Linked DNA regions of Homo sapiens. The protein of the gene in region 2 purifies or fractionates together with the protein of the main gene of each other region. This does not show direct contact. Each region holds a gene or a part of one and is shown on either strand. Other genes may lie near its edges.

What was found.
Region 1: the proteins of FBXL6 (region 2) and IRS4 purify together in Homo sapiens (affinity purification with mass spectrometry, with the first as the bait; 2 studies listed by BioGRID). This does not show direct contact.

What each region holds. Positions count from the first base shown.
Region 1 is NC_000023.11:108,733,564-108,743,991, forward strand, and holds the start of IRS4 (insulin receptor substrate 4), read right to left. Parts: upstream 3,001-10,428; 5' UTR 2,782-3,000; coding exon 1-2,781. UniProt on the Homo sapiens protein: Acts as an interface between multiple growth factor receptors possessing tyrosine kinase activity, such as insulin receptor, IGF1R and FGFR1, and a complex network of intracellular signaling molecules containing SH2 domains.
Region 2 is NC_000008.11:144,350,858-144,367,110, forward strand, and holds FBXL6 (F-box/LRR-repeat protein 6), read right to left. Parts: upstream 7,616-16,253; 5' UTR 7,591-7,615; coding exon 7,175-7,590; intron 6,930-7,174; coding exon 6,771-6,929; intron 6,646-6,770; coding exon 6,582-6,645; intron 6,265-6,581; coding exon 6,133-6,264; intron 6,059-6,132; coding exon 5,951-6,058; intron 5,857-5,950; coding exon 5,743-5,856; intron 5,675-5,742; coding exon 5,443-5,674; intron 5,358-5,442; coding exon 5,111-5,357; intron 4,822-5,110; coding exon 4,674-4,821; 3' UTR 4,574-4,673; downstream 1-4,573. Other genes in the region: CATSPERQ (cation channel sperm-associated auxiliary subunit TMEM249), read right to left, coding at 2,491-2,670, 2,921-3,006, 3,097-3,292, 3,380-3,474, 3,760-3,910; SLC52A2 (solute carrier family 52, riboflavin transporter, member 2), read left to right, coding at 8,437-8,566, 8,766-9,636, 9,733-9,856, 9,946-10,158.

The DNA.
Region 1 (10,428 bases), on a different chromosome or scaffold from region 2:
AGTGAAGTCCATGTTGACGTAGTCACTAGAGCTGTCAGCTTCTCTCTGCTCATGTGTGGGCTTTTGTGGTTTTGGCTTGATTTTATATCCTTTTGTAATAAAAGAAAGTCGGTTAGGTCTCTTAGCTTTATTCTTTGGGGGCTCATGATCTGAAGGCTTTGAAGGTGATCCCCCATCTCCAGGCTTTGAGAATGATCCCTCACCTGAAGGCTTTGAAGCTGCATCTTTGGGGTCCCAGTTATAGGAGACTTCTTTGTCTAGGCCCCTCCCCAGGAACTTTCCAGGTAACATTGGCACATACTCACTGTTGTCATTCTGTCCCAAAGGTGAGCTCCGAAAAGGGTTTGGTAGAGAGAAGTAGGAGCTCCAACTTTTGGAGGAAGAGCCACCCTGAGGATTTCTGGGGTTTTTTGGAATTGCACCGGCTCCAGGAGCCATAAACATGTAGTCACTCTCACTGTCATTGTCCTTTGAGTCATCCTCTTTATTAGTATCAGGTGCTTTTGGAGGACTCGGAGCAGGTGGTGGGCTCACTCTGGGAAACATCATCATGTACCCTCTTGAATCTTCAAAAGGGGATCGAGAGTGGCGCTTTTTTGAAGCAGAGACATTTTGAGGAGCCATTGGCATATAATCACTGGAGCTTACAAGAGGGGTGGCCACCCCTGGCCTCATTGGCACGTATGGGTCATCCTCATCTTCATCAAAAGCTCTGGCTCTGTGGGGACCTCGAGCTGCACCTTCTGGGATCTCTGCATCTTTCACTTCTTTGGCTTCTTTGCATTCTTTCGTGGCTCCTCTGTCAACACAAAAATAAAGTCTGAATCTTCCCCCAGACTTCCCTTTTCCACCAGTTCCTCCAGCTGGTGGGGGTGGAGGAGGAGGTGGTGGAGGTGGTGGCATTTGCTGTTGCTTGCTTTGAGTTAATTTGCCAAAATAGGATCTTTTCTTCAGAGATTTTCCACGTTCACCATCACCATCGGATCCTTTCCCACTTCCTGAGCCTTTGCCCCCCCCAGAGTTCTTGCCACCACCTGAGCCATGGCCATCTCCAGGTCCCTGGCCACCACCTGAGCCATGCCCACCTCCAGGTCTCTGGCCACCACCTGAACCGTGCCCACCTGCGGTGCCCTGGCCATCTCTAGAGCACTGGTTTCCTCCTGAGCCCTGGCCATTTGAGCCCTGACCACCTCGGGATCCCTGTCCCTCGCCTGAACACTGGTTTCCTCCCGAGCTATGGCTACTGGAGCCTTGGCCATTTGAGCCCTGGCCACCTCCTGAGCCCCGGCCATTTCCTGAGCCCCAATTGTTCATAGGCATGTAGTCACCTCCGCTTCCTTCCTGATCTTCTTTGCCCTGGGGATTGCCTTCCTCCCCAAAGTTGCCAGAGCCAGAACCAGACACTTCAGAAGACAGGCGAGCTCCATTGTTCGGGGCTTCTGCAGGGTGCCGGGGACGTGCTGGGCTGGGTGCTAAGCGGCGAAAAAAGCTGGCCGGCACTGAAACCGCTCTCCTTGACCTGCGCCCTCTGGGCAGGTGCAGTCTTCCTCGCCTGGAGTGGGCCACAGGCTCGCTGGGTGTTACGAAGCGCCTGGTGAAAAGCATCTCGTCTTCCCCGTCGCCGATGGCCCTGAGGTGGCAAAACTGCTCAAAGCGGGACCTTCTGAGCCAGCCTCCCGGCTCGAGCGGCACCAAGCCCAGGTGCCTCCTAGCGGACAGCAGGGTTAACAGGTGGGCGCCGATGCTGATGCTGTAGCTGCGGCAGCGGGCTCTGTATTCGTCTGCACACAAGGCTCTCATCTTCTCCAAAAACAGCTCATGCATGTTTTGGGCAACCACACAGTCATCGACCTGCATCCAGAGCTCTCCCGGACCGATGACAGTGGACCTGCCTACTTCCAAGAAGAAATACTGCTCCGAGTGTCCACAGCGACGGATGCTCAGGAGCTGGACGACCACGCTGGCCACTTCGGTGTTCAGCCTCACAAACACGACCTCCTCGTCGGTTAGACACAGCCGGAACACGCCGCTCAGCTCTTTTCTGTGCCCCAGCCCCCTGGGTTTGACTATTACCTGCCACACATCTTTATAGAAGGGTGGCTCCGCCGCCGCTGCCGCCGCCAGCGCGGCCGGCTCTCCGTCCGGCTGCGCGCCGAGCGTGCCGCAGCGGCGGCGCTTGCTCTCGAGGATGAGGCGGCTGAGCAGCAAGTACCAGCTTTCCTGCTCCGACTCGTTCTCGGCCACCATCGCGAAGTATTCGTCTTGGGTGAAAAGAGCAATGAGGTGTCGGTACCTTGCATCTGCTCGCTGGCTCACGGAAAAGCACTGGTATAGGGTGATCACGCGCCGCGGTGGAATGAGCGGGGGGATCGCGGCGCCAGAGGCGGCCGCCGCTGCTGCAGCCGCCGCGGCGCGGACACTGTGCCGGAACTTCCTGGCATTTTCGTAGTATTCCAGCCGAGCTGGGGCGTCAGCAGTCTCGAGTTTGAGCACGAAGTAGCGCCTGTGCCCATGCTTCTGTTTCCGCAGGTAGCCGCGTTTGCAGACTTCCTCCCCGACGGGCAGGTCCTCCTCTTCGGACTCGGAGTCTGACCGGGAGCCAGTGGCCGTGGAGAGCCACATGGCTCCCGGACAAGACGACCCGGTCCCAATGAGTGCGGTCGGGGTTCCCGAGGAAAGAAGCGGGGTGGTCACCACTGCTGCTAGAGCTGCCGCTGCCGCCGCTGCTGCACCTCTTAGTCTTCTTGTCGCTTGGTCGCGAGTGAAGGAGCAACTCGCCATGGTGATGCACGATGGTTTTAAGGTGAGCGAGGAGGAGGGGGAATTCAGGAAAGGGAGGGTTGGGGGAAGAGGCTGTCTACCCTCGTCTGCCCGCCCCAGCCCCCTCCTGCCTTGGCCCGCGCCCCCGCCCACTCCACTCTGAGCGCACGACAGCGGGCAAAACAACACGTGACCACAGCCTCACGCGGCGGCCGCTGCGGATCCTGCTACCGGCGCAATGGAGGGGCGCGAGCGGCCACCAGTAGAGGTGAGCAAGGGAGGAGACGGCGGGCTCGGGAGGCGGAGCCACCTCCGGCTGTGCCAAATCCTCCCGGTCAATCTCCAGGCCTGTGGGCCAAGGGAGGACCGAGAGGAGGAGGCGGGCTCTCTGGCCAAGCTGATTCTAACAGGGAGTCCAGGAAGGCATGAGGGGGCGGGAGAAGGCCTGGAGGGGCGGAGGAGAAAGCGGCCGGCTATCAGGGTCGGGAGAGGGCGCCACAGTCGGGGCCCCATTGGTGGGAGGTGGTGGGAGGGGGCGTAGCGCAAGCAGTGCCTGCCTGCGGCGCCAGGGTGCAGAGCGGGCACAGTCGCGGGACAGTTTGTTTGTTTATTTGGGAAGCGGGAGCCAGGTGAAACTGTTGCAAGGCTCTGATTGGTTGGGATAGGAGCCAATGGGAGGGTCCGGCAAGAAGGCAGCCCCGAAATCATTAGTTTGGCGGGAGGGAGGGGTGAGAGGGGAGAGGGGAGAGGGGGCGTGGCTGGGGTCCCAAAGTGGCTTCGCTGTCGGCTTGTGGCGCTCTCAGGCGGTAAACAACCTTACGCAAATAGCTGTTAATGGTGGTGGTAAACTCGTGCAAATCCCAGAGCCGTGGTGACCCGGGATGGAGTCGGGTGCCCTGGTACTCCCTGTCAATCACATAAATTCTCTGTTCCTGTCACAGTCTGGTTCATTCTTTCCAGCCGCACAAGGCGGCGGATCGAGCTTCTTGGGAGAAAGTGTCGGCACCCCCTGAAAACGGGTTGACGACCAGGGCGCTCAGAACTGCTTCCCACCGCTCTGCAGGCACTCCCGAGCCCGCTGCACCCCTGACAGAAGCCCGCGACTCTGAGGCACACGAATAACAGCGATGCATTCAAAATGAACATGATCTTTATTAATCAGAATGCACTTCTAGCCCACGAAACACAGGTTCCCTAAATACAGTGTTTCTGCCTATTTGATTAACGATGACTATGAAAGCACAAATTTGGGGGCCTGCAATGTATACAGCCATATTGGAAAAAATTGGACTCGATTCTTACTGAAATAACCAGTGTTGGGCTGTGAAGGTATTTTTCTGTGGGAAATGCTTTGGAAGGTGCCTTTAAAAGAATCTCAAAATATTGCTTTCCTTTCCTTGAGCGAGACCGAAAAACTTTAGAAAAAGAAAAGCTCATACCTAGAACAAAGGACCACGCTGAATGCATATTCTAGAGCACATTTCACATCCCTCGCGTCAACAAGAAGAAGAAGAGGAGCTTTGATGCATTTCAGTCTACAAGTTGACATCACAAAAGTAAGAACTACTGCCTCCCTCATTTCTGGAAAAACTGCCGGAGTGTAAGTGCAACCTCCTCAAGTCTCTCTCTCTCTCTCCCTCTCCTTCTCCCTTTCCCTCTCCCTCTCCCTCTCTCCCCCACCACCCCAGTTATTACTTGACTAGGATTTTAGACTCTTAATGGTGGAGATGGGTCGTGAATTATCAAAGGAGTGACCAGGTTTGCAAAGAGGAATGGAGGGAGAGGAGGAGAGAAATACAGCATTTCTCTCTGAAAGAATGGAATGTCAGTTCACCCTTGCTCTAGGGTTGATATGGCAAAGGGTACTATTTATAAAATCCAACAGTAAACTAGGCAATATGTATATCATAAAAATAAACCATATTTCTGCCCTCTTAAGAATTTGCTCTGTTAGAAACAGAACACACGTATTTGAATAAATGGCTCCTTTTTGATGCTATAATTTAAGAGAAAAAGAAATTGGTTTGGGTTGTCCCCCAGATATTACAAATATTCAATAACATTCCCTCTGCTGCCAATGGTTTATAAGTGCAATATATTCACAGGTGCTGGAAGCAGCCGTGGTTTCGGAAGGGAGCTAGAGGCAGAACGAGTGTGGATGCTGAGAGATCCCTGACTGTGACTGCTACATATTTCAGCTGCGTAGTCACATATATACAAGATTCCCTGCACTTACAACCAAAATGATAACAAATGCTCTCATTTGGGATTTTGTTTGATAGTCATTAGGATATTTTATAAGTCTTTCCAAGCACAAGGTTTTTTTCTTTTTTTTTTTAAAGAGAAATGTGACAAATAAGGCAACATATTTGAAAGTGCTTTGAGTAATAACATGACATTGAAAATATCAAAATGAATATTAAATGAAATGGGAAAATACTGGAGATTTTTAAATCCTCATGTCCTTTTTCCTGTACATATAGTTTTTACATAGAGCAGTAGGCTTACAATTTATATAATTTTGCATCCTGTTCTTTTCACTGAACATTATACAATATTTCCCCATATTATTATGCATCAGCATAAATATCATTTAAAATACAACATATTATCCAACACAATCGATGAATATTAATGTAATTAATCATCTGCTTTGGGGCATTTAGGTTGTTTTCATTTTTTTCAGTATTATAAATAACATGTCAATGAATATCTTCTACCTACAGCCTTTTAAAATTCCCATTGGGTAAAAACTGAGCACTGGAATTAGTAGGCTAAAAGATATGAATATTTAATACATTATTTTTCAAAAATATTATATTAGTTTACCCTGTCACCAGACTGATTGTCAGCATTGGACATTCTTATTTTTAAAAAATTAGAGATAAGATGGGTGAAACGGTATTCCACTATTCTTTTTTTTTTTTTTTTTGAGATGGAGTCTCATCCTGTCACCGAGGCTGGAGTGCAGTGACGTGATCTCAGCTCCCTGCAACCTCGGTCTCCCGGGTTCAAGCAATTCTCCTGCCTCAGCCTCCCAAGTAGCTGGGATTACAAGTGCCCGCCACCATGCCCAGCTATTTTTTGTATTTTTAGTAGAGAAGGGTTTTCACCATGTTGGCCAGGCTAGTCTCGAACTCCTGACCTTGTGATCCACCTGCCTCAGCCTCCCAAAGTGCTGGGATTACAGGCCTGAGCTACTGCACCTGGCCTCCACTATTCTTTCAATGTGCTTTTTTTTTTTAACTAGTGAGATTAAACATTTATATATATTCACTGACATTATATTATTTCCTATGTCCTTTGTGTTGTCTATTGTATTCTTAGTATTTTCTTCTTATGTGTAACTTGTTTATGTAATAAATACATTAAAACTTTGTGGTATTTGTTGCAAGTTTTTTTTCCCCAGTCTGTTGACTTTAAAAATCACATTTAACTTGATTTTCTTCTATTTTGAAAGATATGTAAATTGGGCATGATGTGATTTGTAGCACAGTTTGAAAGGGAGCTGTTGATACAAGTGTCACCATGGTCACTTTTAAACTTCTTTTAAAAGATCTCATATATTTCAGCTTATATGCTCTTTTAAAAGGAGAAATAGGTTTCTTCTTTTGTCAACAAATTATGAGAGCATCTAAATTAGTTAAATTTTATTTATCACTCTGAAATAATACTTTATGAGACATTTTCTATTTTAAGGGGAAATATCTAGCATTAATCAATGTGTTAAAAAAAGAAGTGTGAAAATAATTTCTAAACTATTACAGTGAAAGATGAACAGTGCTGATCACTTTGTACCCAGGGTATATTATTTGGCTGCAGCGAAGTGGAATTAGAGCTATAGTGAGATGCTTCACAGAAGAATTTTACTTTGTATCTTTCCTAATCTGGCAAGCATGAGTACTTGTAAACTGGGAGAATGTCTGACTAGAACATTATTTTCTTCCTACAGGTCAACCAAACCTTCTCAGTCCTAAAGTTGTCTCAACACTGAAGCTCTGTAGAGCAGACCATCATTACTGAATTGTACCAGATGCTAGAGCTTGTCTGACATACATTTAAATTTTCATTTTCCTGGACAACTTAATGATATAGAATAGTCATTTAGTTTAGGTCAGATTCTCATAGGCAAAGTAAAACAGATATCTAGATGGTTTAGGCAAAATGTAGAGAATTTTTATTTGGCTTGAACTCACTCAGTGGTGGCTTTAATGCTCTACCCTCTCTTGGTTATAGATTCCTGTCTCTTATTTTTTTTCGTTTTTGTTTTTATTTTAGGACAGTTTATCCCAGAAGGCTAAAGTTGCCTTGCATATTCAGTTATTACAACTGTAAAGTTTGGAATCTGCACAAAGGGTCTGAAATACAGATTTTTAAAACAACAGATAATAAATAATAAGACTTAAAAGATAGTTCTTGTTTTAGTTTGCCAATTCAACTCAAGGGATAAAAAACACAAGCATTGTAACTGGCATTTTATGGCTATAAACTAATGTAAATGGATAAATAGCCACAATACCTTTAAAACCAATTCCAACTAATGAAGAAATATGCCTTTAATGATGTGTGCTTTTAAAAGGAATTTCCTGTGAGTCCTGTTTTAAGAAAGCAATTGTTTGAATTGACTTGTCAGTGATAACAAAAATTCATCTGCTTCTTTTCTTACATACATGATCATGAATATTCTAAACTCAACTTGTACTAAAATCGAAATGGGTAATTCAAGTGTGGATTTATTTAGTTTAAAAATTAAACTGTTGTATTAAATATGGACGACATTATTCAAGAGAATAAAACCTAAGAGGAAAAGTAACCAGTATCAAAAAACTATTATTCTTGTCCCACGTATAAATTATCTTCTAAGTATTAATTCTAAAAGCTTCATGAGCTAACGTCCAATTATGCTGATAAAAATGTGATGCCACCCTTGATATTAAAAAATGATGTTAGTGATGACGATTGCTTCTCTGTGTTGGGACATAAATCATGTACAATGAAAGATGCTTTCTACACTATGCAGGAATGAGGGCTGCCCTGTGATTTGTGGCTGCAGCCACTGTTTGTAGATGATGGCTTTGCTTCTCAGCTTCTTTACTTCTGTGCTACTCAAAACCTCTGCTAGAGAAAACAACCATCAAAGGCCTGACTGCTGCACACAGAACAGGTCTGTTTGCTGCTTTTGTTTCCTAGCAGTCTCCAGCGAAAGTAATTAGAGCAAATACATGGTTTAATTAGGCTCCTAAAGCTTTCCTGTTATCTTAAGAGTCAACTTAAAGTTAACTTAGTTAAAAATCAAGCATTTCTTCCCACCTTCAAAAGATAAAAGTTTCATTTGGAAATAACTTTTACTAAGTAAGATAAACATCAGAACAATGAAGTCTGCTAGGTTTCACATAAATTTTAATGATTTAACATCATACATGTTCTCCATGCTAATATAAATCAATAATAGAAAATTTAGCTTAATGCTATGCTCTTCCGTATTAATATCATATAGCAGTATTTTTCTTAGTGTCAAAAGGCTATCAATTCATACTGCCTTGTCTTCAAAAGTTAGAATCTTTATTTTTTAAATTAAGTAGGATAATTACATAGTTAAATATATTATTTTAAAGGAGTTAGTATCATAGACTTATATTTTTCTTTGGATATTTAGAAAGCCAGCTGTCATATTTAGGATAATATGTATTATGTTTCTTGTTGTTTCCCCTCTCTCCACTCCTCACATGGTCCTGCAATATCTGTCAGATTGAACACTTTGTTTCACTTTCATAGTCACCATCCTTGTCCCTGCCATAATTAACCCTACCAGAATTGCCTAAGTAACTTCTTAAACTGGCTTCTGCATTCTTCAGTCTCTTCTTCATATAGCCAGCAGAATATTTCCTTTCATATGTTCCTTTCATCATACAATTCCCTGCTCAAGGACATACAGAAGCCCCCCTCCCCCTTTCTCTGCTATATCAGAATTAAATAACTAACCCTAATATGTTTCCCTGTTCTCCACTGACACAACAACCAACCTCTTTTTCTCTCTTGCTGTATACAACCTTTTCTTCCAAATTTGCCTCCCATTCTATTACAGTACATTCTTGCTGCCCACACCTCCACACAGGTTGGTTTCTTAATGGCATTCTGTATACGATTTCTCAATTTCCATCTTTACTTAAGCTGTTTCCCTCTTTTTCCTCATCACCAACTGATGCCAATCATCTTTCTCAAGAATAAGATCAAGACCCAGAAAAAGGTTTCCTCCATCACATAATCCCACCGCCTAATCTCTTTAAGCATTGGATGTAGGTGGAGCTAAGGATTTAGTTGGTATTCATCCATACAGGCATATCATTGTTAAATGATAGTCATTGGTAAAATAACGAATACTTTTCTACCACTTAGTAAATAGCTACTGCCCTGAAACTGTTCCCCACTGAGTAGTCTTCTTGCCCACCCATTGTCCTGGCTACTACAACACCTCCGTTAGGACCTTCTACCTCTCCACTATCCCGCAACTACAAGGTTAACTACTGGCACATTGAGGGGCTTCCAGGATTCCATACTCAAATTTTGACTGACATACATTCTTATTGGTTGGCTTGTGCTACGCAGGTTGTTGAACAGTTAAAATTACCATGCCTGGATATAACTAATCCCAGAGTTGAGAACACGGTTCTAGGCTATATGCTCCTCGAGGGCCAGGAATTAATGCTTGGTATAACAGTCTGGCAATTATCAGTACATGTTTGCTTCAAGGAAGGAAGGAAGGAGAAAAGAAGAGTGGGAGGGAGGGAAGTGGGGAGGGAAGGGAAGAGGATTAAAGGAAGGAAAGGGCAGAAGGAAGAAGGAAGGGAGGGAGGGACAAGGGAGAAGGGAAAGAGAAGAACAACAATGTTCAAGACGTCAATGCAGACTACCTCCCCCTCCAAATCACTTGCAACCATGCCAAAACTCTCCATGACTGATGGCAAGGCTTGGTGACTTATGCCCAACTTAACATCTCTTCCCTCTCAAAAATATCACGCCCATTGTTTTCCTCATCTATCACAGGTCAGCAAATCTTTTTCTCACACATATTTCTTTCCCATCTTGCAGTTGTTGTTAGAAACCTCAGGAAATGTCTGTGCCCATTGATTTCCCCCTCCTGTCTTTAGTTCCATTTAGGAACAAAGAGAAATTTTAACCTTGATCATGTAAGGTTATAAGTATAAACTTACTTAATATTAGTCTTAGGGTAATGGTGATGATAAACCTCCATTAAGGAAAAGCACTTAGCAGTTCCTGATATCATTTTTTTTCCTTTCTCATTCCTTCCACTAGAATATAAGCTCCCTATATTCCCATATATTCTGCATGTATACTTACCTTGTATTCCCAATGCCAAGAACAGTGCCTGACACATGGTAGATACTACTCTCAATAAATATATGCTGAAGGAGTGAATGAAAATTAAAAAAAAGTTTTGAAATAGAGATACCTCAAGGATCACAAGTGCTTTTGTAAAGGATCCCCTTAAGAATCTCTACAGAAATCTTCATCTATCTGCTTTAATTAAACATGCTCTTTCTCAATCATCAGCATTCAAAATATGTCCAGATATATTTTATAAGCCTAGTTTGTAATCACTTTTATTTTCCAATGTTTCTCTAATTGTTAGTATTGCAACCCTTTTTC
Region 2 (16,253 bases):
ATGGTTTCAGGTCTGTGCTTCCCCCTTTCCTTTCTCCCCAGGGCCTTTCTGCCTTTTCAAAATCTCCCCCACAAGGTCCTGTAAGCTCCTCAGGCCTTGTCTAATTCAGAACTCCTGACTGCCAACCCCTCTCCCCATAGCCACCAGCCCCAGTGCCCAGGCCAGACACTCTGGACTCCCGAGTCACTTTTCTTCCCAGCCCACTTCCCGCCCAGCAGCAAATCCCCTCCACGGAGCCGGAGCTCAGAACTGTCTGTGGTCCTTGCTCCTCTCTGTTCCCCTCTGCCCCTCCAGCTCCCTTTCCTCCGTGCACAATTCCTGCAGCCTCCTGGCCTTTCCCCACCGCTCCCTCCCTGGGTCTTAGTGCATATCTGCTTACAGCTCTCCAGCAGATTCCCATGGCACACAGGACTAAAGCTCTGAGCTATGGCCTCCAAGGACGCTGCCTGCCCTTCCCACCTCATCTCAGGCCTCCTTCTCCCTTGTCCTCTCTACTCTGACCAGCCCAATCCCCTTGCAGCTTCTCCAGCACACCCAGCTCAGTCCTATATCACGCCCTTGTGTTGTGTTTACTCTTTGCCCACGATGCCCTTCCCCCAAAGCTCCCCAGCCAGAGGGACCCTGCCCCTCCAACCACTCTTCATTCTGGGTCCCTCTTAGATCACCAGCTCCAGGGAGGAGGGACTTTGCCTGCCTGAGTGAAACAGAGCCCTCAACCCAAACCTAAGTTTGGTGCTGCCACTGTAGGACACCTTGAGCCCCATCTTCTGGGGAGTGGAGGTCCCTGCACTTGTGCTGTTAATGACAATTGCTTCCAGGGATTACCTAAAGCCACTTCAGTAGCCCCCAGATCCTGCCCCAGAGATGGGCCAGGGTGCCTGTGTGCCCAGTGAGTTTTGAGCAGCCTTGGGATTGGGGGTCAAGTAGAGACTCTAAGTCATGGTTCCAGGCAGAACTGGCTTCACGAGCCTGCAACCTGGGCAGTCACACAGGGCCCCAGGCTCAGAAAGGCCCCATACTTGAGTTTTTGTTGCTGTTGTTGTTGTCGTTGTCGTTTTGGGACAGAGTCTCACTCTGTCACCCAGGCTGGAGTGCAATGGCTCAATCTCCGCTCACCCGCAACCTCTGCCTCCCAGGTTCAAGCGATTCTATTCCTTCAGCCTCCCGAGTAGCTGAGATTGCAGGGATGCACCACCACACCCAGCTAATTTTATATTTTTAGTAGAGACAGGGTTTCACCATGTTGGTCGGGCTGGTCTTGAACTCCTGACCTCAGATGATCCGCCCGCCTTGGCCTCCCAAAGTGCTGGGATGACAGGCGTGAGCCACCATGCCCAGTCTATCTTGAAATTCTTAATAACTTTATTTTTATTTTTATTGTTTATTTTATTAGAGACTGGGGTCTCACTATGTTGTCCAGGCTAGCCTTGAACTCCTGGGTTTAAGCTGTCCTCCCACCTTAGCCTCCTGAGCAGCCGAGACTACAGGTATACACCACTGCACCCCACTTATTAACTTCCTAACAATGGGCTCCAAATTTTCATTTGGCATGGGACCCTGCAAATTATGTAGCTGCTCCTGGTTGCAGGGACGTTCAGCTGATAATGCCTGAAGATCCGGAGAGCCAGGTCCTGCTTTCCCTGGGACCCCATGGCCCACAGCCTTCTCGGCTTCCACAACAGCCCCCAGCACTCAGGAGGCCTCAGGTGCTGCAGTGATAGCTGGGGGATCCACTGGACAGGAGAGTGTGGGCCTGGGGTTCCAGCAGGCACAGCAAGTGGGTGTCAGGGGCGCAGGCCTGGGGTTCCAGTGGGCACGGTGAGCGGGTGTCAGGGGCGCGGGCCTGGGGTTCCAGCGGGCATGGCGAGCGGGTGTCAGGGCACTGCACATCCTCCCTCCTAGGAGGCCCTGCACCCTGGCCCGGGACTCTTGTGCCCACCCCCTTGGAGGCAAGCGGCAGCAGCTTTGTGGGTACTGGGGCAAGCATGCACCCCAGGCACAGGGCTTGTTCTCTGGCCGCACCCCACCCCATTGCTGGTTGGAGTAGCAGCAGGCACCGGGTCCAGAATGGGCCAGATTCTGACTCCTGGATTCCACGCATTGGTCAGCACCTCTGAGGTCAGGTAGGACAAGTTAAGTGCTGCTGGCTAAGAGGGGATGGAGTTCCCAGCCTCTCTAGTGATGGGCCGAACCTCAGAGGCCTGGCTATATGCCATCCCTTGCTCTCAGCTGTTCCTGTCTTCGAACACAAGCTGTGGGGTTTGCTTCAGTCAGCTGGAAGGCACAGGCTCTCTGAGGTCCTAGGAGTGCGCAACAGTGGAAGACCTAGGCACCAGAGGGCCTCCCCTGCCCCCTAAAATGATCCGTGTGGAAGCTGAGGCAGCTTTATTGAAAGGAAGGCCAGTGAGTGGGACTCACATTTGATCTGCCCCAGAGTGGGGCTGGGAGGTTACCGAGAACACAGTCCCGAGGTGGGGGAGGCCCTCAGAGTCACACCTCCAGGCTGGACTGAGAGGAGCTGGGCTTGTGACCCATGGGGCTCTTGCCCATCACAGTGCCAGCGCCAGGGGGTGGCCAGTGGCGAACCACGTGCCGGTAGGAGGTGGCCAGGTAGTCGAAGTAGTTGATGTTGAGTTTCCGGGCGATGTAACGGCCCAAGTATTCCATTTGCTGTGGGAGCAGGTGGCGCTCAACTGGGGCCGGGACAGGACAGACCCGAGTCGCCGTCCAGGCGTCTCCTTCCCCTACCAGGCTGCATCCCCCGTCCTGCCCGAAGCCCCGGCGCCCTCTCCACGGCCCCCAGCACCGAAGACCGTGTTGTATTTACCCTCTGCGTGCGGAAACGGCCCCACCCAAAGACCTTAAACAGTGATCGGTGTCATCGTGTCCTGAGGAGGGCGCGTGTCTGGGCGGGACCCACCTCGTAGTGCTCCGACAGCTGCACCAGCACCAGGGGCTCCAACCTGTGGCCGCCGAGGACCAGGTGGAAGAAGCACCTTCCGTGGGCTGCGGGGAGAGCGGACTTAGCCAGCCTGGCCGCCCCTCCGACCTCCCAAGCTGCCTCCCCGTCCCTGGCGCACCCTCCCGGCCCGTTACCATCGGAGCTGAGCGCCAGGCGCACGTAGACCAGATGCAAGGGGCCCTGGCACACGGTGCGGCCCTGGATGGAGAAGTGGTACACGCCGCGCGTGTGGTTCAGCACCAGGCGGCGCCGCGGCAGCGACGAGATCACGAGCCACAGGCCCACGCCCACGCCGTACACGAGGAAGACCCAGGTCTCTTGCTTCTGCACCTGCGGGCGCCACGCGGAGAGTCTGAGCGGCGCGGGGCCGGCCCTCAGGGGAGGAGGGCGGTGGGGGTCGGGCCCAGGGGCTCACACCTCTCTCAGGGAGCTGAAGCTGACCAGGACCACGCTGATGATGAAGAGCAGCATCCCCTTCCACAGTGTGTCCAGGTAGTATTCGAGCACGAAGACTGGGGGTGGCGCGGCGCGTGAGGACGCCCCGGCCCTGCCCGCAGCCGGGGGTGGCGGTGCCAAGGCTTGGCCCGGACTAGCTGGGTCCGCGCAGGGCTCGCGGAGGCGACGTCTCGCCTGCGGCCTCTCCGTCCCCAGGAGCACCGGCCGGCCCCACCCAGGGCCCTGGCCCTGCCTCTGCCCACCTGGCTCCGCCCCATTCAGGCCTCGGGCCCGTCTCCCTCCTCCCCCGCCCCGCCCTTCCCAGCCCCGCCCCGCCCCGCCCCGCCCAGCCTCGCGCGCACCGTTTGGCTCCTGCTGCACGAATGGGTAGAAGCTATTGTTCTTGAGGCGTCTGGCCAGGTGGCGCTCCGGGCAGGTGAGTCCTAGGAACCAGAGCTGGAAGCGCCAGCCGATGGAGGTCGTGGGCAGGCTGCCGGCCCGGCCCTTAGGCATCTGAGTCAGGCAGAGGTGGTCAGCCTGGCCGCTCGTCCGCTGCCGCCGCCCACTGCCCACAGCGGCACTCCTACCTCGGTGAGCAAATTCTCCAGGGCTGCAGGCCCAGGAAGGAGCAGGAGCTCACAGGCGACTGACAGGGCAGCGAGGCCAGGGAGCGGCCCAGGGTGGACCGCGGATGGGTTCTAGAAGTTCTGGGCAGGTTCTAGAAGGGGCTGCTCTGTTGACCACCTCTTAGGGAGTCCAGGGTGAGGTCCTGCGGTAGGCATTAACTTCTTGGCCAGTCCATCCACTGGAGGCCCCCTGTATGGCCTGTTCACAGTCCCCATGTGAAGGGTGGATGGGTGGACACCCTAGGCCTGAGCTGGAGAGAAATTTGCAGGCGGCGACCACTCAGTGAGCCCCACAGCTGGGCGGGGCCCCACCCCCTCCCACCCCCCACCCACATGCAACCACAGACAAGCTCACCAGTGTCCCCGAGGACGGAACACACACACTGGACCCAGCAGTGGGCAGGCAAAGGCATGGCCACCTGCAGGCTCAAGAGCCCATGGGACCACCCTGACCCCACAACACACAGGCTCTGGGCCGGCTGTAGCCCCAGTGGCTCCATCAGGTATAACCTGTTGCCCAACCCTACCCTGAGGACCACACACACAGAACTCCTAAAAATGTTTTATTTTAACAAAATGCTCAAATATCTGAAATTGGGCAAAGGTGGAGGGTGGGCAAGCTGGCTGAGGTGTCCCAGGTCTGTGGCTGCCTAGCTGGGTGAGGGGCTGGTGAGCAGCTGCTCCAGACACCACTGGACTTCCTCCAGGCCCCGGTAGGCCCGCTTCAGACCCCGGGGAAGGCAGCGGCAGGACTCCAGGTTGAGGTAGAGCAGGCCCGGGCAGCCGCTGATCACAGAGCTGTGGGGAGGGCAGACCACAGGAAGTTGAGCTGTTGCCTCAGAAGGGCTGGGCCAGGCTAGGGAGCTGTGCCTGCTGGTGTTCGACACCTGGCTCTGCCACCCATAGCCACCAAGGCCAAGCCCAGTTCCCCTGGTGTCCTCAGGCCCACCCCACGCAGGGGCTTGGACAGTATGCATGCCCCTCTGACCCCTGGAGGTCTCAGGCCAGGCAGGACACAACTTCCAGGCCCCAGGCAGACACAGTGACAGCCACACTGGCTCCAGGGACTGGGGTAGGGGATGCTGACCTGACAGTGCTTGGTGTGACCCGGGTGCCCCTGAGGTTAAGAGAGCACAGGGCTGGGTGTGAGCCCCCAGGGGTGCTTAAGAAGGCAGCCAGGGCCTGCTCCAGGTCCTTCTCACTGAACCCCTGGCCACTCAAGTCCAGTTCTCGCAGTGTATGGCACCACTTCTGGGTCAAAAAGGGGCTGCCCTCCTTGGCTAGAGTCAGCCGGTCTGACGTGCCATACAGGCCCAGATGAAGCTGCTCCAGCTCTGCAGTGAAAGGAGTGAGCATAAGCTACAAGGTGACAAGGGCCCCCACACCTCACCCGCCCGGCCACCACCCAGGACTGCTGACCCCGACATGGCAGATCCTGAAGGCCAGCCGGCGTGATGCGCGCACAGCCACGAAGATCCAGTAAGCGCAGGTTGGGAGAGCCGTGGAGTAGGCGGCCCAGGACCTCGTTGCTCACAAAGTTGCAGGTTGAGCTCGCCAGGCAGAGCTCCTCTAGGCTAGGGAAGCCTGGTCCGGGAGCCACCCCTCGTCCCGGAGGCTTGGGCAGCCACATCAGGTTCAACAGCCGCAGCACCTGGGGGCAAGGTCCAGGCTGTAGATGGGGGAGGGTGTGACAGGTGGGAGAGGCAGGGCGCCAGGTACCTGGAGCTGAGGGCAGCCTTTCTGCAGAGCCTCGACAGGCAGCTGAAGGGGAATGCTATTACGGTTGATGCCGGTGCTCACCTCCAGGACCTGGAGCTGGGGGCAGCAGCTGCCCTGCAGAGATGGGGGGAGGGGGTAGGTCACAGGGTCAGTGGCCTGGCAGTCCCCAGCTCAGCATCTGCCTCTGCTCCCACCAATGCCAACTTACCAGCAGTGCGCCCAGGATGGCTGTCGTCTGGGAGCTGTAGGTCAGCCACAACTTGCGCATTCGGGACCCTGCCTCCTCCAAGAAGCTCACCACAGCTGTGGACTCCACCTGGGGCCCCAATACAAGAGCACCCGTCACCCCGGCCTGGGTTTTTTCAGGGCCCCTTGGGACACAGGGCTCACCATGGAGTGCTGTAGGTCCAGGCTATGGAGCTGGCAGCAGGCTTTGGCTAGCATGACCAGAGCGTCAGCAGTCACACCGTGGCAGCCGGAGAGCTTGAGGAAAGTGAGCCGAGGACAGCACTCACCTACCAGCTGCGGGGAGACAGAGGGGCAGCTGGGGTTGGGAGACGACAGGCTAAGATCCACAAGGGAAACAGACAAGTGGCTGGTGCCAACCCCACTCTACCGCCTTAGCTGTGACCTCCTTTCTGCCCATGCCAGGCCTACTTGGGTGTCCCCGCCTCTGATACCTCCCTGCTGGAGGAAACAGCAGGAAAAGAGAACCAGGCAGGCAGGCAGACATCCCCACGGAGCAGCGTTGGGCCCCCAAGGTGCCTGACCCACTTCCTAGAGTACTGAACAGTCCCAGAGTGTCACAGCTGATGTGCAGGACAGCCTGGAGCTCTCACCTTCAACACGGGGTGTACCTGAGACTTCCAGTGGATGAGGGTCAGCCTCTGGAGCTGTGAAAACCTGGGCCGACAGCGGAGGCAGAGCTGCACTAATGTTCCCACACGAGTCCTTCCCACCCAACACCTTGGTGCAGGGAGACGGAAGGAGCCTGGAGCCAGGGGTAAGGAAGAGAGGGAACCCCTCACCGATTGGGCATAAGCCACTCCAGGGAAGCAAGGAGCTTCTTCTCCGCCTTGACCCCGCCCTTGGCAGGCCGGCCGACCAGCGGGGACGACAGGGTCACGGTGTGCCAGAGCGCGGGTTGGGAAGCGGCCTCCTGCCAGCGGCGGCACACGCGCGCAGCCCTGGGAGGACAGCGTGCTGAGGGTGCCGGCCCCTCCGTAGGCGATGCCCCCCTCTCGCAGCGCAGTAGACACCCCGGCTCAAAGCCGGGCTCCTGGGACTCCAACTGGGCGCCTAAGGGGCTGCGCTCTCGGACTGAGCGGTGCGCGCTCCGATGCTTTCGCCCTCCGCCCCCGCCCGGGCCACCGCTCGGACCACGTCTGGCCCAAGCCGCTACGCTCGGCGGCGGGCCCGGCACCAGCGTTACCTGCCCAGGAAGGGCATGGGGCCGTCCGCCGCCACCAACAACCCGAAAATCTGCACCAGGATTTCCAAGGGAATGCGGTCTCCCCAGCCCGCGTCGGGCCCTTCCTCGGGCGTGGGCGTGGGTGCCGGTGCGGGTGCGGGCGCGGCCGCCGCCTCGGACCTGAGCCCGGCCTTGGGCTTGGCCGCGGCGCTGGGGCCCCGGGGCGGCTGCCGGGGAGTGCGGCGGGAAGCGCGCCGCTGTGCGCGGGGCCGGGCGGGGCCGGGTTCGGACAGCACCAGCAGCATGCTGTCGGACTGCAGCAGGTGGTACCCCGAGCCCCTCGGCGCCAGCCGGTCCCACCACCAGTCCTCGGCCGAGCGGGGCCGCGGCGCTGCCCGGGCTCTGCGTCGGACCTGCCGGGAGGCTGGGGCAGCCATGACCACCGACGGCGCTCGGGGAAGCCCCAGGGAGCGGAACGGGCGAGGCTTATAGACCGACAACCCCCCGGTTCCTCTCAACGCCCGCCCGCCCGCCGACCAGCTTCCGGGGCGGGACTTCCGGTCGTGGGCCATGCCGGGGGCGGGCCCGGAACCGCCACGGGTGAGTCGGGTCGTGGCTGCTGCCGGGTCCTGCGCGCTCCGGACTGAGGTGGCGTCCCTGGGCCGGACGGCGGTGTCCCGGCGTGGCGGGAAGCCGGCACTGGAGCGGGAGCGCACTGGGCGCGGGACCGGGAGGCGCAGGGACCGGACGGCTCCCGAGTCGCCCACCTGACGGTACCGAGAGGGCGGCGCCCCTCCGAGCAGAGCCGTCCCGGCCACTCCCCTGGGATCTGACTTGGCTCTTGCGGTCGCGGGCACCGTGAAGCCCTGGGGTGTGCGTGGCTCCTCCTGGTAGGCGCCCTTTCCCGGCGTCCGGCTTGGGGTGGTGGTGGCGTTGACTCCAGCCCCGCCTCTCCCTGGAGAGGAGGGCTCCACTCGCTCCTTCGGCCTCCTCCCCTGGGGCCGCAGCGACTCGGGCCGGCTTCCTGCTTCCCTGCCTGCCGGCGGTCCCGCTGGGTACGTTTTAGCCAATCCTCCCCATCTGCGCTCCTGCCCGGGGCTCCCCCAGTTCCCCTGGTCTCACCCTGTTCTGACTCCGGCTCTGCATCCTATCTGTTTCTCTGTTTCTTTCAAGCTAGAAGAAGTCTTCACTTCCCAGGAGAGCCAAAGCGTGTCTGGCCCTAGGTGGGAAAAGAACTGGCTGTGACCTTTGCCCTGACCTGGAAGGGCCCAGCCTTGGGCTGAATGGCAGCACCCACGCCCGCCCGTCCGGTGCTGACCCACCTGCTGGTGGCTCTCTTCGGCATGGGCTCCTGGGCTGCGGTCAATGGGATCTGGGTGGAGCTACCTGTGGTGGTCAAAGAGCTTCCAGAGGGTGAGTGGGAGGGAGGTGCAGGTGTGCCCAAGACTCCTGGGCTGCGGTCAGTGGGATCTGGGTGGAGCTACCTGTGGTGGTCAGAGAGCTTCCAGAGGGTGAGTGGGAGGAGGTGCAGGTGTGCCCAGGAAGGTGGGCTTTGGCACTCTTCCTCCCTTGGGCATCATGACCCTGACATGGCCTCCTCCCTTCCCTGCAGGTTGGAGCCTCCCCTCTTACGTCTCTGTGCTTGTGGCTCTGGGGAACCTGGGTCTGCTGGTGGTGACCCTCTGGAGGAGGCTGGCCCCAGGAAAGGACGAGCAGGTCCCCATCCGGGTGGTGCAGGTGCTGGGCATGGTGGGCACAGCCCTGCTGGCCTCTCTGTGGCACCATGTGGCCCCAGTGGCAGGACAGTTGCATTCTGTGGCCTTCTTAGCACTGGCCTTTGTGCTGGCACTGGCATGCTGTGCCTCGAATGTCACTTTCCTGCCCTTCTTGAGCCACCTGCCACCTCGCTTCTTACGGTCATTCTTCCTGGGTCAAGGCCTGAGTGCCCTGCTGCCCTGCGTGCTGGCCCTAGTGCAGGGTGTGGGCCGCCTCGAGTGCCCGCCAGCCCCCATCAACGGCACCCCTGGCCCCCCGCTCGACTTCCTTGAGCGTTTTCCCGCCAGCACCTTCTTCTGGGCACTGACTGCCCTTCTGGTCGCTTCAGCTGCTGCCTTCCAGGGTCTTCTGCTGCTGTTGCCGCCACCACCATCTGTACCCACAGGGGAGTTAGGATCAGGCCTCCAGGTGGGAGCCCCAGGAGCAGAGGAAGAGGTGGAAGAGTCCTCACCACTGCAAGAGCCACCAAGCCAGGCAGCAGGCACCACCCCTGGTCCAGACCCTAAGGCCTATCAGCTTCTATCAGCCCGCAGTGCCTGCCTGCTGGGCCTGTTGGCCGCCACCAACGCGCTGACCAATGGCGTGCTGCCTGCCGTGCAGAGCTTTTCCTGCTTACCCTACGGGCGTCTGGCCTACCACCTGGCTGTGGTGCTGGGCAGTGCTGCCAATCCCCTGGCCTGCTTCCTGGCCATGGGTGTGCTGTGCAGGTACACAAGGACCCCCAGCCCCTGTGCGGGTGGAACTCAGGGCTAGGAGCCAGGTCCTGGCGCAGTCAGCCCTGACATTCTGCTCGCTCACTGCAGGTCCTTGGCAGGGCTGGGCGGCCTCTCTCTGCTGGGCGTGTTCTGTGGGGGCTACCTGATGGCGCTGGCAGTCCTGAGCCCCTGCCCGCCCCTGGTGGGCACCTCGGCGGGGGTGGTCCTCGTGGTGAGCACAGGGGGACATGAAGTGGGGTGGGGGGGCGTTGCCCTGGAGCAGGCACATCTCACGCTCAGCTGGTGCTGTGTCCCCCTCAGGTGCTGTCGTGGGTGCTGTGTCTTGGCGTGTTCTCCTACGTGAAGGTGGCAGCCAGCTCCCTGCTGCATGGCGGGGGCCGGCCGGCATTGCTGGCAGCCGGCGTGGCCATCCAGGTGGGCTCTCTGCTCGGCGCTGTTGCTATGTTCCCCCCGACCAGCATCTATCACGTGTTCCACAGCAGAAAGGACTGTGCAGACCCCTGTGACTCCTGAGCCTGGGCAGGTGGGGACCCCGCTCCCCAACACCTGTCTTTCCCTCAATGCTGCCACCATGCCTGAGTGCCTGCAGCCCAGGAGGCCCGCACACCGGTACACTCGTGGACACCTACACACTCCATAGGAGATCCTGGCTTTCCAGGGTGGGCAAGGGCAAGGAGCAGGCTTGGAGCCAGGGACCAGTGGGGGCTGTAGGGTAAGCCCCTGAGCCTGGGACCTACATGTGGTTTGCGTAATAAAACATTTGTATTTAATGAGTTGGCATTAATTCTTTGAGCACATCTCTCTGTGTGGATGCTTCCCTGAACTAGAGCCATGGCCTGGCCTGTTTAACAGGCTGCCTCTCCCCAGGCCCTGGGCAGGTCCTTACCCACCACAGGCTGGTCTCACGGATTGTACAGTCATGCCCTCTGAGCCCAGACTACCCCACATTGCTTCTTGGAACTGCCCTGGGCTCTCTGGGCCCACACGAGCTACCAGCTTCGGTGGTCAGAGGAGTAGAGGAGCCTCTTCCCGGCAAGGCCACTGCTCCACGAGCACCTCTCAAGGGCTGAGGGTTAGTCGGATGGGGCTGCGATGTGCCGAGCCCCCTGTCCACCCTTAGCCCTGGAGTGACTGTTTGCCTGCTAGCTTCCCAGGAGTATCCTGCTAGGGATTTACACCAGGGGGTTGGTGTGCAGGCACCGGGGTACTCAGTGAGGGGGACTCAGAAGAGACAGAGTTTAAGGTTTTAGCCCATCGGGACCGTTTGGCCTGAGCATTACCCCACTCCCCTGAGCCTCCACCCTCTCAGTGACAGCTCCTCCTGCAATCAGACCCCCAAAGGCCCCAAACTGTTTCTTCAGGCAGACTTGGCTACAGCTGTCTTCTCCCTGGGCTGCTGGCACACTGCCCCTAGCCCTGAGCAGCCTGGGCCTGTATGTGTTGGCATCTGCAGGGAGCAGGACCTCAGCACTGACCATGGTCTATCCTGGGCTGGGTGGTTCTTGGGCTCCCACAAAAAGAGCTGGAGCTGCAAAGGAACTAACTGAGAGGAGCCCCTGAGCCTGGGAGCAAGGATCTGGAAGAAAGTGCTGGGAGAGACCACGCCAAGGTAGGAGCCTGGCTTTCTTCACCTCGTGGGCCGCCACCCCAGGGAGGCAGGACACCGAACTGTGATCAGTATGACGGGCCTGGCAGCAAGGCCCATTCTCCCAGGCAAGAGGCCCCACTTCTGCAGAAGGGCCCCTGCAGCTACAGGGAGCGTGCAGGCACTGGGGATGGTGGGTCTGTTCCTGCTGCCCAAGCTCTGTCTGCGACGGTTCCGCTCTGCGGAGGCCCTTTCTCATTGTCCTTGAGTTGGCCTGCACACGGGCCTTTGAAGGCCTGGTCTTCCTCCCCACTTCTGCTCCCTCCTGTCTTGGCAGGACCATCAGAGGAGGAAGGAGCCCCTGTGACCCGGAAAGCCTCTAGTCTGGGCCCCATCAAACATCAGGGGGCAGGCCAGCTCCCAGGGGGGCTCAGGACCACCCAACTCTGAGGGCAGAGGCCACTGCCAGCTCCAGCCTTCCAGGATGCTGCCGCCTGAGGCTGGGCCCCTGCCCAGCTGACCCGGCTGCTTCCCTTTGGGGGTTGCAGGTACTGAGGGTTCTAGGGGGTGGGGGCTGAAGGTTGAGTGTGAGCTTCAGAAGTCGCCTGGTAAAAGAAGAAAGCTTCTGAGGGAGGATGAGGACAAGGATGGGACAAGGTGGGTGGTTTGGTGGCATGGCTGTGGGCAACAGGGCTCCTGGTCTCATGCTTGCCCCCTTCCCCTCATCGCTTTGCCACCACCCCCATCAGCACCGGTGCTTGGGGCCTGCCCTCTCCTGTCCACCCTGGGCTGCAGGCTTGGTGGAGCCACCTCCCAGCTTCTTCTATCTTCCCTCCCATAGGCCAGCGATCAAAGGCATCCATGGAGGCTCTGCTCTGTGCCACACATGAGCCACACTCCCCCAGGCCGCAGAGGAGCAAGGTGCACAAGCCTGAGTGAGGAATCCGCTGCCTTTTGAAGTCTCTGTGAGCTTCCTGCCCATCCCAGTAGGAACTGGGGCAGGGGTCAGAATCATAATGGCAGAAAGGTGCCTCAGGGCCGAGGCCTTGAGCACTGCTCACTTACAGTTTCCCGGGGCTGAGTCCAGGGCCAAAGCTGGGCCCCTGGGAGGCAGGATAGCCCACCACGCAGGGCCTGCTGGGGCGAGGATGCCCACCACCACCAGCTGCACAGCAAGTGGCCAGAGGCTCTGAAGCGCGAAACCCTGCCCAAGAGGAATTTGGAGGAGACTCCACCCTCCACCGGAAGGCAGGAATGGAGCCGGACCTGACGTCCCCCACTGTCCCCAGAGGGTGGTCCCCTGAGTAGGAGCAAAGCCTGCAACTCACTGTTCCTTGTCCCTCCACAAGGAAAGGTTTCCTGGGCTCCTCACCAGCAGAGAAGGGGCCAAGTGCAGTAGCTCATGCATGTAATCCCAGCACTTTGGGAGGCCGAGGCGGGTGGACCACCTGAGGTCAGGAGTTCGAGACCAGCCTGGCAAACATGGCAAAACCCCGTCTCTACTAAAAATACAAAAATATGCCAGGCGTGGTAGCAGGTGTCTGTAATCCCAGCTACTCGGGAGGCTGAGGCAGAATTGCTTGAACCTGGGAGGCAGAGGTTGCAGTGAGCCGAGATCGCGCCATTGCACTCCAGCCTGGGCAACAAGAGCGAAACTGCATCTCAAAAAAAGAAAAAAACCAGCAGTGAAGGGCCAGCCAGGCCGTGGCCACCACGTGCAGCCGCCTGTCCCAGGTATGTGGTCATCCCATGTGATGCTGATCCTCTGTGTGTGGGGACAAGCCTCGCTGGCTGTGATTGAGCAGCTGACCTAAGAGCCTTCCCATCCTTCAGTTCTGTAGTTCTCCGCCCAGCTTAGTCCCTAGATGGGTGCAGGTGACTACGGGGTTAAGGAACAGTTGCACCCCTTGATTTTTTTTTTTTGGGAAGGAGTCTCGCTCTTTCGCCCAGGCCGGAGTGCAGTGGCGCTATCTTGGCTCACTGCAAGCTCTGCCTCCTGGGTTCACGCCATTCTCCTGCATCAGCCTCCCGAGTAGCTGGGACTACAGGCGCCCGCCACCACGCCCGGCTATTTTTTTGTATTTTTAGTAGAGATGGGGTTTAACTGTGTTAGCCAGGATGGTCTCGATCTCCTGACCTTGTGATCCGCCCGCCTCGGCCTCCCAAAGTTCTGGGATTACAGGCGTGAGACACTGCGCCCGGTCTTGTTTGTCTTTTAGAGGTAGAGTCTCGTTCTTTTGCCCAGGCCTGAGGCTCAAGTGAGGTCGAGGACTCAAATGATCTTTTTTTATTTTTGGAGACTGAGTCTCGCTCTGTCACCAGGCTGGAGTGCAATGGCACGATCTCAGCTCACTGCAACCTCCGCCTCCCGGGTTCAAGCGATTCTCCTGCCTCAGCCTCCCGAGTAGCCGGGATTACAGGTGCCCACCACCACACCCAGCTAATTTTTGTATTTTTAGTAGAGACGGGATTTCACCATGTTGGCCAGGCTGGTCTCGAACTCCTGACCTCAGGTGATCCGCCCACCTCGGCCTCCCACAGTGCTGAGATGACAGGTGTGAGCCATGGCGCCCGGCCCAAGATGGTTTTAGATATGACAAAACATCTTGATAGAAACTGAAACCCTTAGCCGGGTGCGGTGGCTCACACCTGTCATCTCAGCACTGTGGGAGGCTGAGGTGGGCGGATCACCTGAGTTAAGGAGTTCGAGACCAGCTTGGCCAACATGGTGAAACCCCGTCTCTACTAAAAATACAAAAATTAGCCGGGCGTGGTGGCGCACGCCTGTAATCCCAGCTACTCGGGAGGCTGAGGCAGAAGAATCGCTTGAACCCGGGAGGTGGAGGTTGTAGTGAGCTGAGATTGCACCACTGCACTCCAGCCTAGGCTATGACAGAGCAAGACTCTGTCTCAAAAAAAAAAAACTTGAGCCTGGGCAACATAGTGACATCCCATATCTACCAAAAAATTAAAAATTGGCTGGGCATGGTGGTGAGAGCCTACAGTCCCACTTACTCGGGAGGCTGAGGCAGGAGGATCACTTGAGCCCAAGAGGTCTAGGCTGCAGTGAGCCTTGATTGTACCACCGGACTTCAGCCTGGGTAACAGAGCGAGACTCTGTCTCTAAATAAAATAAATACATGATTTTGGAGATTCCCCAGAGATTTGTCCTTTCACCTCCTGCCCTTGATTCTCAGAGGCTCTTACTGAGCCTCCTCAGTTTTCATGGCAACGTAGGTATTTGCATGGTGTCTTGTGGGCGGAGGATTACCTAGGTGCCGAGGCAAGAGACTGAAGGCAGAAACTGTTTCAGTATAATAAAGAAAATATTTAGAATAAGAATAGTCATAATACAAATTAGATATAGGGATGACCATGGACAATTATCAATCATTATTATAAGCATTATTAATCATTAGCTTTTACCATTACTCTTTGTTGCATTACTAACAAAACGTAGGAATAACCGGCGGATATAGGGTCGGGTGCTGAACGGACATGGTGAGAAGTGACCTAGAAGGCAAGAGGTGAGCCCTCTGTCACGCCCGCATAAGGGCTGCTTGAGGGCTCCTTGGTCAAGCCCTAACGCCAGTGTCTGGGAAGTCACCCGTTGCTTAGTAGACTGCGAAAGGGAGTCTCCTTTCCTTGGAGGAGTCAGGGAACACTCTGCTCCACCAGCTTCTTGTGGAAGGCTGGATATTATCCAGGCCTGGCCGCAATCATCCGGAGGCCTAAACCCCTCCCTGTGGTGCTTCAATGTTCACGCTCCTTGTCCACTTTCATGCTCCTCCTGTACTCCTAGTTCCTCTTTGAAGTTTGTAGTAGATAGCAGTAGAAGAAATAGTGAAAGTCTTAAAGTCTTTGATCTTTCTTGTAAGTGCATACAAGAAAACGCTGACGTTTGCTGCCTTCTCTCTCTGCTTCGGCTACCTAAGAGGGAAGGGCCCCCTGTCCTATGATCATGTGACTTGCTTCACCTTGTCAATCACTTAGAAGATTCACCCTCCTTACCCTGCCCCCCTTGTCTTGTATGCAATAAATATCAGCGCGCCCAGCCATTCGGGGCCACTACCGGTCTCTGCGTCTTGATGGTAGTGGTCCCCCGGGCCCAGCTGTTTTCTCTTTATCTCTTTGTCTTGTGTCTTTATTTACTACAATCTCTCGTCTCTGCACATGGGGACAACACCCGCTTAGCCCCATAGGGCTGGACCCTACAGTGTCTTAGTTCGTTTTGTGCTGCTATAATGCCACAGACTGGGTAATTGATAATAAACTGGGATTTATTGGTTCTGGAGATTTGGAGGTCCAAGAGGGAGGGGCCACATCTCATGAGGACCTTCCTGCTGCCACATAACATGCCAGCAGGCATTATGTGGCTGGACGGAAAGGGGCCAAACTCATCCTTTTATAAGGAATCAATTCCCGAAATAATGGCATTAATCCCTTCATGAGGGTGAAGCCCTCAAGACCTAATCACCTCTTAAAGGTCCCACCTCTGGCGGGGTGTGGTGGTTCACGACTGTAATCCCAGCACTTTGGGAGGTGGAGGCGGGCGGATCACTAGGTCAGGAGTTCAAGACCAGCCTGACCAACATGGAGAAACCCCGTCTCTCTAAATATACAAAATTTGCCAGGCGTGGTGGCACATGCCTGTAATCCCAGCTATTCGGGAGGCTGAGGCGGGAGAATTGTTTGAACCTGGGAGGCAGAGGTTGCGACAAGCCAAGATCGCACCATTGCACTCCAGCCTGGGATGACAGAGCGAGATTCCATCTCAGAAAAAAATAAAAAGGTCCCACCTCCAATACTGCCACACTGGGGATCAGGTTTGCAATCCATGAACTCTGGGGGACACTTTCAAACCACAGCACATAGATTCAGTTAAGAGACTCTTCTCCTTTTACAGAAGACAATTGGATGAATTGGTTAGGTCACCAAGGCCTTGTCCAGGTTGTCATATGGAGAGTTCTGCTCTTTCACTGGGGATGACCAGCCGCTGCTGCGGACCTTGGGTTGCTGTTAT